Homo sapiens: one gene and its partners. The protein of the gene in region 2 purifies or fractionates together with the protein of the main gene of each other region. This does not show direct contact. Each region holds a gene or a part of one and is shown on either strand. Other genes may lie near its edges. The genes, in order: TACC1, ACACB and MOXD1.

Region 1 (3,657 bases), on a different chromosome or scaffold from region 2:
GTAAATTAGTTGGTTTAGTCAATCCCCCATCTCTCCTGGGAAATTATCTGACTTTTGCAAGGTCCTTGGTGTTTTCAGTGTAATTACCTAAGGTCCTATTCCATATCAAGTTTCAGTTTAACTTTGCTACAGGATTACTTTATCACAAAACTTGAGTAGATGATAATACAATCATACATCACTTAGCCACAGGGTAAGCCACAGGGAAATGCATCCTTAGGTGATTTTGTTGTGTGAACATCGTCAAGTGAACTTACTCAAACCTAGGTGGTGAAACCTACTACACACCTAGGCTATATGGTACAGCCTGTTACTCCTAGGCTACAACCCTGTACAGCACATTATTGTACTGAATAGGTGCTAGGTGTGGTGGCTTACACCTGTAATCCCAACACTTTGGGAGGCCAAGGTGGGAGGATCCCTTGAGGCCAGGAGTTCAAGACCAGCCTGGGCAACATAGTGAGACACCCCCCCACACACACCGATTCCCTGTCTCTTAAAAAAATTTTTTTTAATTAGCTGGGAGTGGTGGTGCATGCCTGTAGACCCAGCTACTCAGGAGGTTGAGGCAGGAGGATTGCTTGAGCCCAGGAGGTTGAGGTTGCTGTGAGCCATGATTATGCCATTGTACTCCAGCCTGGCTGGCAGAGCAAGACCCTGTCTTTAAAAAAAAAAAAAAAAAAAAACTACTATAGGCAGTGTAACACAATGGTAAGTATTTGTGTATCTAAACATATCTAAGCATAGAAAAGGTACAGTAAAAATATAGTATAAAAGATAAAAAATAATACACCTGTATAGGGCCCTTACCATGAATGGAGCTTGCAGAACTGGAAGTTGCTCTGAGTGAGTCAGTGAGTGGTGAGTGAATGAGAAGGCCTTGGACATTACTGTACACTACTGTAGCTTCTATAAACACGGTACACTTCAGCTATGCTAAATTTATTTAAGTTTTTTTCCTTCAATAATAGATTAAGTTTAGCTTACTGTAACTTTTACTTTATCAACTTTTAAATTTTTTAAGAAGTTTTGACTCTTGTAATAAAACTTAGCTTAAAACACAAACACATGGTACAGCTATACAAAAATATTTTCTTTATATACCTATTCCATAAGTTTTCTTTGTGTAAAATTATTTATTTGTTTACTTTTTAAAATTTTTGTTAAAAACTAAGACACAGACACACACATTACCTAGGCCTACCCATTACCTAGGCCTACTCAGGATCGTCAGGACATCACTAGACAATAGTTTTTCAGTTCCATTATAACCCTACGGGACCACCATCGTATGCATGACTGAAATGTCATTACATGGCACCTGACTGTATATCCTTTTGTGGCCCTAAAAAGGGCCACATTTTACTAAAAAGTTTGAGTAAAATGTAGATATAAAGAAGGACCAATGAGATGCAGGATGAAATATGGGAGTATGAGAAGCACTGTGTTTGTACTTGTCACTGTAGATCAGTTGGGGAAATGCTTCTCAGCATTGCTATGACTTAAAGAAAAACTCCAGATATCATGGTGACTTACAGCAGAAAGGAAGACGCCCAGAGGTTTAAAGAGCAGAAGGATCAACTTCAGTACCAAGAAAGTAGAGAGATATAGGAACCAGTTCCTCAGCAGCCCCGGAATGGCTAAGGGGAGTGAAATGTCATTAGTAGCTCTCGATCTGTTCTTTGATTATATATAAGCAGTTAAATGGTTGTTGGAAAATATTATTGATTGGGTGCCCTCTTTTGTGGCTTTTAAGGTTGGTTACTCCTCTCTAGACAGCACTTAGGGTATGTACTGGGCACGTCACTGCCTAGGTACTTCCTCCCCTAAATGTGGGATGCTTCTGCATACTGAAGTTGATAAGGAGTCATTTGTGAGTCTTTGAGTTGCATGCAACCAATGCATTAAATAAGATGAAATCTGGGCCAAAGAAAGGGTAATTTATTCTACACTTTATATTCGGCAGCAAGAAGCACCGTCTCTCGAGTCCTGCCACCCTCACCCAGTAGCCTTTTTCCCCTATTCTGTTTTTGTTGAATGAACTTCTTGATCTAATACACTTAATAGGGCTTTTTTTAAGGCCTTATGCAATCAAAAATCTTGTCGTCTTGTTCTTTTTAGAAGAAAGGAGTGCTAGACCTCTTGGAAGTTTATTTTTCATCTGTAAATTTGAATTTGTGGCATTTCTGAGTGTTTCTACCAGTCTCCTTTGTAGTTGAGGTCTGTTCATCATTCACTCACTGGTGATAACATTCATGAATACGACATTTTTAATTTGTATCTCACCTCATAGAAAGAATTGTGCAGCTTTTACATCTGCCAGACTAGAGTTGAATATTCCAGTCTTTACATGATTTTTTTCTCCATCTGTCTGTCTCTTTCCTGTCTCTAATTTTGTTGGTGCATCAGGACTACTGAACAAGTGAAATTTCTCTGTTTTCTGTTGTAAGTACTCCTGCTGTTTCTTTAGTCCCTGGGACCGTTGGCAGTTTCCTCTCTCCCCTCCCCCAGCCATCTCTCCATAGCATGTTTGCTTCTAATTCTGAGTTTGATCTTCTGATGATTTTTTTGCATTTCATCAGTCACTTCATGAGTCAGCTTAGCCTTGCAGTTGTCCATACCTAAGGGAGTGGGGCTTGGCCTTTACACCTTAGGTGCTAGAGCTTGCACTCCCTGGCTTGGCAGGTGTCACGTGGCGCTTTGACAATACCAAAAGCTGGCTTGGCCCCAAGATCATCACAGCAGTGGTTTGAGGGACTGTTCTGCTATTTAATATTGGAAATCATTGGCTTTTTTGGTAGCATAAAGCTACTGGCTTGGAACAGTTAATAAATTTTACTGAGTCAGCTCAACTTGAGTTTGGTGGCAGAGGGTAGCACTCAGTAAGAAGATTAGGGAAAGAAGATCATGAACTAGTGATTATGCACATTCCGGTAACTTATGTGCTTGTCTTTGTATTTTTTCTCACAAAAGAAAAAAAGTTGCAAATAATTTTTTCTCTTTTTTTGGTCACAGTGGTGTTTTTCCTGGAAATTCTAAGTTTATTAGAACAGAATCTGAATTAGTCCTGTGATCACAAGTTGTGTGCTAATCTACAAATAACAGATGGTTCAAGCTTCCCCAGTTTCAGGCTTTGTGCAGCGTGTGACATTCATCTTCCATCTTACTACTTAATAGGAATGGTAACAGTTTACTCACATATTTTTACTTTTATACTTTTTATTGATGACAGTTCTTCTCTGTGAGCACACAAGTCTAACTGGAACTGTTTTATGAGACGTCTATGGCTTTTAGTGCAATAAAGAATTTTTAAAGAATTTGGTCCAGCGTGATGATTTTTCTAATGAATGTCAAAGCCAAGCGAGTGAGGCTCAGAGGAACTGAATGTCTCCAGCTGCTAAGGCTCTACTGTCTGCAAAGCTTTTGGTGGCGTGTAATTAAAAACCATAGACATCAGAGTGCTACTGTTTGACAACTCATAGAAGCAAGCTGAGGGGGTCTTTTCAGAGAATGAGCCCCGCTTGTAGGTCTTTGCTTACCCCGTCTCTCTGGAGAAAACTCAGAGGCATAAAAGGTGTCCCTGCCTCTCTCCTGCGGCGATGTATGATTTGTGTGGTGCTGTATGCTTTGGCTTCTATCCGCACACACTGCTGTCTG
Region 2 (3,657 bases):
GAGTGAGACCCCCATCTCAAAAAAAAAAACAAAAAAACAAAAAAAAAACAATGAGGAACTGAGGGTTGGAGGCAAAGTGTCACTTTCTAGAGGTCACACCATGAGGTGCAGGTCAGGGAGGGGCAGCCCCAGGAGCTGCCGGGTGACCTGGGCAGGCACCTCCCCATTTGGCAAGGTGAGGAGGATGTTTGTCCACCCTTCCCTCTGCAGAAAGCTGCTCTGAGCCTCATGTGACCTTACAATTGTGTGAGGGCTTTTTAAGCCACCAAGCATGTTTTGGGAGAGAGTGGCTGTTGGATCACTGGGGTGTTGAGGACAGAGCTGGATGGGAGGCAGACAGACCTGCTGTGAGTCCTTGTTAACTGGGTGACATCACTGAGCCTCAGTTTCCCTCCTTTGTAAAAGGGGGTTAAGAACAGGACCAACCTCAGAGGGCCGAGGTAAGAGTCTGATGAGCTAATTGCTGACATGCAGTGTGATTGTCAGTGCTGTTATTATTGCATTCTTGTTTTCATGTAGGGTGCCTGGGGACCTGGAGAGATGTGTCTTGGTGGAAGATAAGGGCCATGTTGCCCATGCACATTGGGGAAGGATCAGTGTGACTGTTAGTGAGGGTTTTCTTTGCTGGAAATGGTGGGGCAGGGCAGGGACAGTCATGGGTGAGGGCATTTCAATTCCAGTTGGAAAGAATCCTAGAGATTGGTTTTTCCCTGTGCCTTCACAGATGAGGCCACTGAGGCCCACACTGGGTGAATGACCTGTTCGAGGTCACACAGCCACTTAGAGAGTGATCAGTACTCTCAAATCCCAGCCCAGTGCTCTCCAAGCCTCTCAGCTGGGCTCACTCTCCCAGGACCCCCAGGACAACTAGGGCAGTGGGTTTCATGTGTGGATGAGTGAGGGCCCTGAACTGGGAGGCTGCTTTGCTTTTCAGACATGTATGACCAGGTGCTGAAGTTTGGAGCCTACATCGTGGACGGCCTTAGACAATACAAACAGCCCATCCTGATCTATATCCCGCCCTATGCGGAGCTCCGGGGAGGCTCCTGGGTGGTCATAGATGCCACCATCAACCCGCTGTGCATAGAAATGTATGCAGACAAAGAGAGCAGGTGGGTGTGTTGCCCTTAGCCTGGCTTAGCCTTTTCTTGTTCTCCCAGCCTTGAGAGCCCATGACCTTGGGAGATCATGGAGGGATGCAGTGGCTGGAACCTGTAAGTGGTGGAGAAATGTTGTCTCTTCTTTCATGGTTTCCACTTCCCCTTCCCAAGGAAGTTTGCAATCAAAAAATAAAAAGGAAAGACCAAAAGCACTTGAACTTCCTGGCAGCCAGGATGAAAAGGGAAATATGATGAGCCATTTATCTCTCATTAGACTCTGAGCTATGAGTTCCTATAGGAAATGTTTTATTCAGTTTTATATCCCAGGGTCTAGCACAGTGCCTTACTCTCCTGGTAGGTGGTCAGAAAATACTGGCTAAACAAATGACTGAATGAATACTTGCATGAGAGGATACCGGTTCTTCGCGGGAGAGGTAACCTCCTTGGCACTTTCCTTAGGAGGAATTTATTCCAGAGATTCTTACAGAAAGGATGATGACAATAATGTTCACAGCACAGTGACTGATGACTTTGAAGTGAAAACTACATGCTACACAGGATGTCAAGGCCTCAAGAGTCATTCTACTCCAAATATAGGCACGGCATTCCTGTGTTCACTCCCTCATTCATTTGCTAATTCAATGAATATCCATTGATTACCTCACTGTATGCCAGCCATTCTGGTAGACATTATGATATGGTGGCAAATGGGCCAAGCTTGTCCTGCATTCAGGGCACTTAGACCCTTGTTAGGGACTGCTGAGGTCAGTCCTCCAGGAAGACTCAGGATACTGAGCAGCACTTGAATGGAGTCATTGCTAACTTTTCATGCTGGCCACCAGGAAGCTCAGAGCTACTGATAGCATTCTTCAGGGCTTCTAAGCTGTCAAAAGCAAAAGGGGGCAGGGGGAGAATAAGGGGTAAATAAAAATGTTGGAAATGAGGCCAGGCGTGGTGGCTCACGCCTGTAATCCCAGCATTTTGGGAGGCTAAGGGGGGCAGATCACTTGAGGCCAGGAGTTCAAGACCAGCCTGGCCAACACAGTGAAACCCCGTCTCTACTAAAAATACAAAAATTAGCTGGGCATGGTGGTACACGCCTGTAATCCAAGCTGCTCGGGGGGCTGAGGCAGGAGAATCACTTGAACCCGGGAGGCAGAGATTGTAGTGAACCGAGATAGTGCCACTGCACTCCAGCCTGGGTGACAGAGTGAGACCCTGTCTAAAAAAAAAACAAAAAAAAAAAAAAAGAAAGAAAAGAAAATGTATGTTGGAAATGGGAGGACAGCTCACACAAGACTACACTGGGCTCTCAAGGTGCTTTTGTGAGATTTAAAGCGATCAGAAACAGTGCCCCTCCTCTAGGAGGGCAGAAATTAGCAAAGTTAGAGAGGACTGTGGCTGGAGAGCAGGAGGGTTATGCTGCCATGGAAAAAGTCGTACACTCTTAGACCTGAAAGGGGCCCTCCAGAGTTCAGAAAGCATTATTTTAAACAGTTGGCTCAGTCTTTCCATCTGTGGGTAAAGATACAGAGGCCCAGAGAGGGAAAGTGACTTGTCTAAGGGCACACAGCATGTGTGGGGGTAAAAGAGCTGAGGACTGACACCCAGATCTTCTGGCTCTCTTCCCTCCAGCTCCCCCCACATCCATTAGCCCTTGCTTGCTGGGCAATGCCTCATATACCCCCATCCCTGCCTCTTCTCTTTTAAGGGGTGGTGTTCTGGAACCAGAGGGGACAGTGGAGATTAAGTTCCGAAAGAAAGATCTGATAAAGTCCATGAGAAGGATCGATCCAGCTTACAAGAAGCTCATGGAACAGCTAGGTAAGGGGGTCCCAAAGGCTTCACCTCTCAGAGGTCAAGAGAGGCCCAGCTGGCCCACTGCTGGGGGTTTCTAGGATGTTAAAAATAAAATGAAAAAATACCAAAATACAGCTATAATAACTGTGAGATTTTTAAAGATATTCACATTTGTCTGTTTGTTTTGTTTTGTTTTTTTGAGGTCTGGCTCTATTGCCTAGGCTGGAGTGCAGGGTGCAATCTCAGCTCACTGCAACCTCTGCCTCCCAGGCATAAGCCATCCTCCCATCTCAGCCTGAGTAGCTGGGACTACAAGTACGCAACACCATGCCTAGCTAATTTTTGTATTTTTGTAGATGTGGGGTTTCGCCATGTTGCCCAGGCTGTTCTCAAACTCCTGGGCTCAAGCAATCCACCTACCTCAGCCTCCCAAAATGCTGGGGTTACAGGCATGAGCTACCATGATTGGAGGACATTCACATTTCTAAATCAACCTTTTTAACATTATATATATATATATATATATATATATATATATTGCCATCGTGAATTTATTTCTCAGCATACACAAAAGATAGCAATTGAAGTATTTGGGGCTGATGGGGATTATCAGAATTTTGGTGGCAAAATGTTCCTTTAGAATTCCCAATCAGAGATAAGATATTTTACTAATTTTGTTTGAATGACAGCTTTGTTTTACTTGTCATCTTTAGATGTAATTATCTTTATTTATTTATTTGTTTATTTTTGAGACAGA
Region 3 (2,618 bases), on a different chromosome or scaffold from region 2:
TCTTTAAAAATCTTTTATTTGGTATTTCTTCTAGTAATCACTGATGAGCTCATCAACATTTTGCATTAGGTTATCTATGTGTATGAAAATGAATAAGTGTGAGATCTATTTTAGGATGCTGAAAAGTAAAGGAAACATGTAATGCATTTGTTCTGAATATGACTAACTGTGTCTTTTAAATTCAGGACCTGGCCTTTCATTATCAAAAGTCCCAAGCAATATAAAAACCTTTCTTTCATGGATGCTATGAATAAGTTTAAATGGACTAAAAAGGAAGGTCTCTCCTTCAACAAGCTGGTCCTCAGCCTGCCAGTGAATGTGAGATGTTCCAAGACAGACAATGCTGAGTGGTCGGTAAGCTCTTTTTAACCTCTGACAACCCAGATGACACATTTTATCTGAATCTATTACAGGAAAACCTAAGGAGAAGACAAATATCCATAAATCCAGGGGTCCAGTTGCCTTCTAATGTCTGATAATTTTTGTTCAATGATTACTTGGATTGACTGAAAACTCCTCATTCTACCCCCTTTCAAGAGAAAAATTAGTTCTAAAACTAAGGTTGGGATAGAGCAGGAACAGGCCGGAATGAGTGCTGCAAAAAGCAATAGAGCCTGCTTTGTATTCTTTTCCAAAGGAGTGCCTGGCCCTCTTTTCTGTTTCCTCCTTAACCCTAGGTTTCTGACTCCCCCAGTGTGTGACTCCTTTGGTAACCACTCCTGCCCCCTTTATCCCCTGCAGAAGTGTGGGCAGCTGAGCGGCCTGGTCACTGTGCTGCCTTAAATCAGATGTTCATTTGCATTGTTTGTGCTTCCATTTTCAGATTCAAGGAATGACAGCATTACCTCCAGATATAGAAAGACCCTATAAAGCAGAACCTTTGGTGTGTGGCACGTCTTCTTCCTCTTCCCTGCACAGAGATTTCTCCATCAACTTGCTTGTTTGCCTTCTGCTACTCAGCTGCACGCTGAGCACCAAGAGCTTGTGATCAAAATTCTGTTGGACTTGACAATGTTTTCTATGATCTGAACCTGTCATTTGAAGTACAGGTTAAAGACTGTGTCCACTTTGGGCATGAAGAGTGTGGAGACTTTTCTTCCCCATTTTCCCTCCCTCCTTTTTCCTTTCCATGTTACATGAGAGACATCAATCAGGTTCTCTTCTCTTTCTTAGAAATATCTGATGTTATATATACATGGTCAATAAAATAAAACTGGCCTGACTTAAGATAACCATTTTAAAAAATTGGGCTGTCATGTGGGAATAAAAGAATTCTTTCTTTCCTACTACATTCTGTTTTATTTAAATACTCATTGTTGCTATTTCACTTTTTGACTTGACTTTTATATTTCTTTAAAAAATTCCTTCCTTTTAAAAAATATAAAAGGGACTACTGTTCATTCCAGTTTTCTTCTTCTTTGTTGTTCTTCTAGTGTGACTTTTCAAGTGTAACAGCCATTCTTCCTGACTTTAATATTGTCCAGTTCTGGTCTTTTCTGTGAATTACCACTGGGCCCCTTACCTCAATGCTTTTTGTTGATGCCCACTCTGGTTCCCTTGTTTATCTGAGTCTGTTGGTACCCCAAATGACCCCACACCCATCTTAAAGTACTTTTTTTCACCTTCCCTGTTTAGTACTGGCCAGATGAGTTTTTTCTAGAGCTCTGTCACTATCTGAAAAGAAAGAGGCTATGGGAAACATAGAAATGGTATGTATTAATAACTGATCATAGGCTGAGGAGAAAAAATGTAGCTGGCTGCAAACCCAGTGCTGTGAGGTGACTTATATGAGGTTCCAGATCAAAGACAGGCCGTGTGAGCCAGTCCAGGAGGGTGTAAGTTCTGAATGGTTCCTTGCTGACTTTGGGTGACACATGTACCACATACTGGCTCAGTTTAAGTCATGGTTCTATTGTAGATTTATTTTTATATTAGTTAATAAATGACTTTAAATTGTCACCAATTGAAAATCTTGTCACTCTTTTGGTTTTCTTTATATAGCTCAGCCAAATCTTGTTTTATGTCCTGTCCTCATCTCTTAAGCTAAATCTGTTTGGATCATATTAATAAACTAAATGAAATTACACTTTTGTGTGGTATTTTATACATTGTTTAAGAAAAGTAAGTGATTCAGTACTAGTATTAACAGTAAAAGTCAATTCAGAATGTTGCATTTTCCATTCCATTTTGAAGCCCTTTTTGCCCCATAATGTCTTCAACACAAAACGTATTGCCTTTTAAATAAATATGTTTCAGAGTATTTCCTTCTTGATTCTTAGAACTTGTACATTTGATGAAATGTTTTTAATATTTTTGAGGCATATTTTTGAGTTTACTTTCTTTTTATTTTATAAGTGCTATTTCACATTCTATGATTTTCCATTCAAATATTTATATGAGAAATATAATTCCAAATGCTCCCTATTTGAAATTTTATGTTGATTTTTACTTCAGAATTTCTGAATTTGAGGTATCAAAGTCAAATGATTTCCTCCTGAGATTCTGTAATATTATATTTGTTCTTACCAAGAACAAATATTCTGTAATATTATATTTGTTCTTGGTAAGGAAGGTGAACATACCAGCTAGACGAGGGTAAACAGCTTTGGAAGCTTAAT

What was found.
Region 1: the proteins of ACACB (region 2) and TACC1 purify together in Homo sapiens (affinity purification with mass spectrometry; one large-scale study listed by BioGRID and IntAct). This does not show direct contact.
Region 3: the proteins of ACACB (region 2) and MOXD1 purify together in Homo sapiens (co-immunoprecipitation; one large-scale study listed by IntAct). This does not show direct contact.

The regions. Positions count from the first base shown.
Region 1 is NC_000008.11:38,821,581-38,825,237, forward strand, and holds part of TACC1 (transforming acidic coiled-coil-containing protein 1), read left to right. Parts: intron 1-2,409; coding exon of another isoform or gene 2,410-2,445; intron 2,446-3,657. UniProt on the Homo sapiens protein: Involved in transcription regulation induced by nuclear receptors, including in T3 thyroid hormone and all-trans retinoic acid pathways. Might promote the nuclear localization of the receptors.
Region 2 is NC_000012.12:109,259,546-109,263,202, forward strand, and holds part of ACACB (acetyl-CoA carboxylase 2), read left to right. Parts: intron 1-519; coding exon of another isoform or gene 520-604; intron 605-934; coding exon 935-1,112; intron 1,113-2,811; coding exon 2,812-2,924; intron 2,925-3,657. UniProt on the Homo sapiens protein: Mitochondrial enzyme that catalyzes the carboxylation of acetyl-CoA to malonyl-CoA and plays a central role in fatty acid metabolism.
Region 3 is NC_000006.12:132,295,523-132,298,140, reverse strand, and holds the end of MOXD1 (DBH-like monooxygenase protein 1 precursor), read left to right. Parts: intron 1-185; coding exon 186-354; intron 355-823; coding exon 824-988; 3' UTR 989-2,086; downstream 2,087-2,618.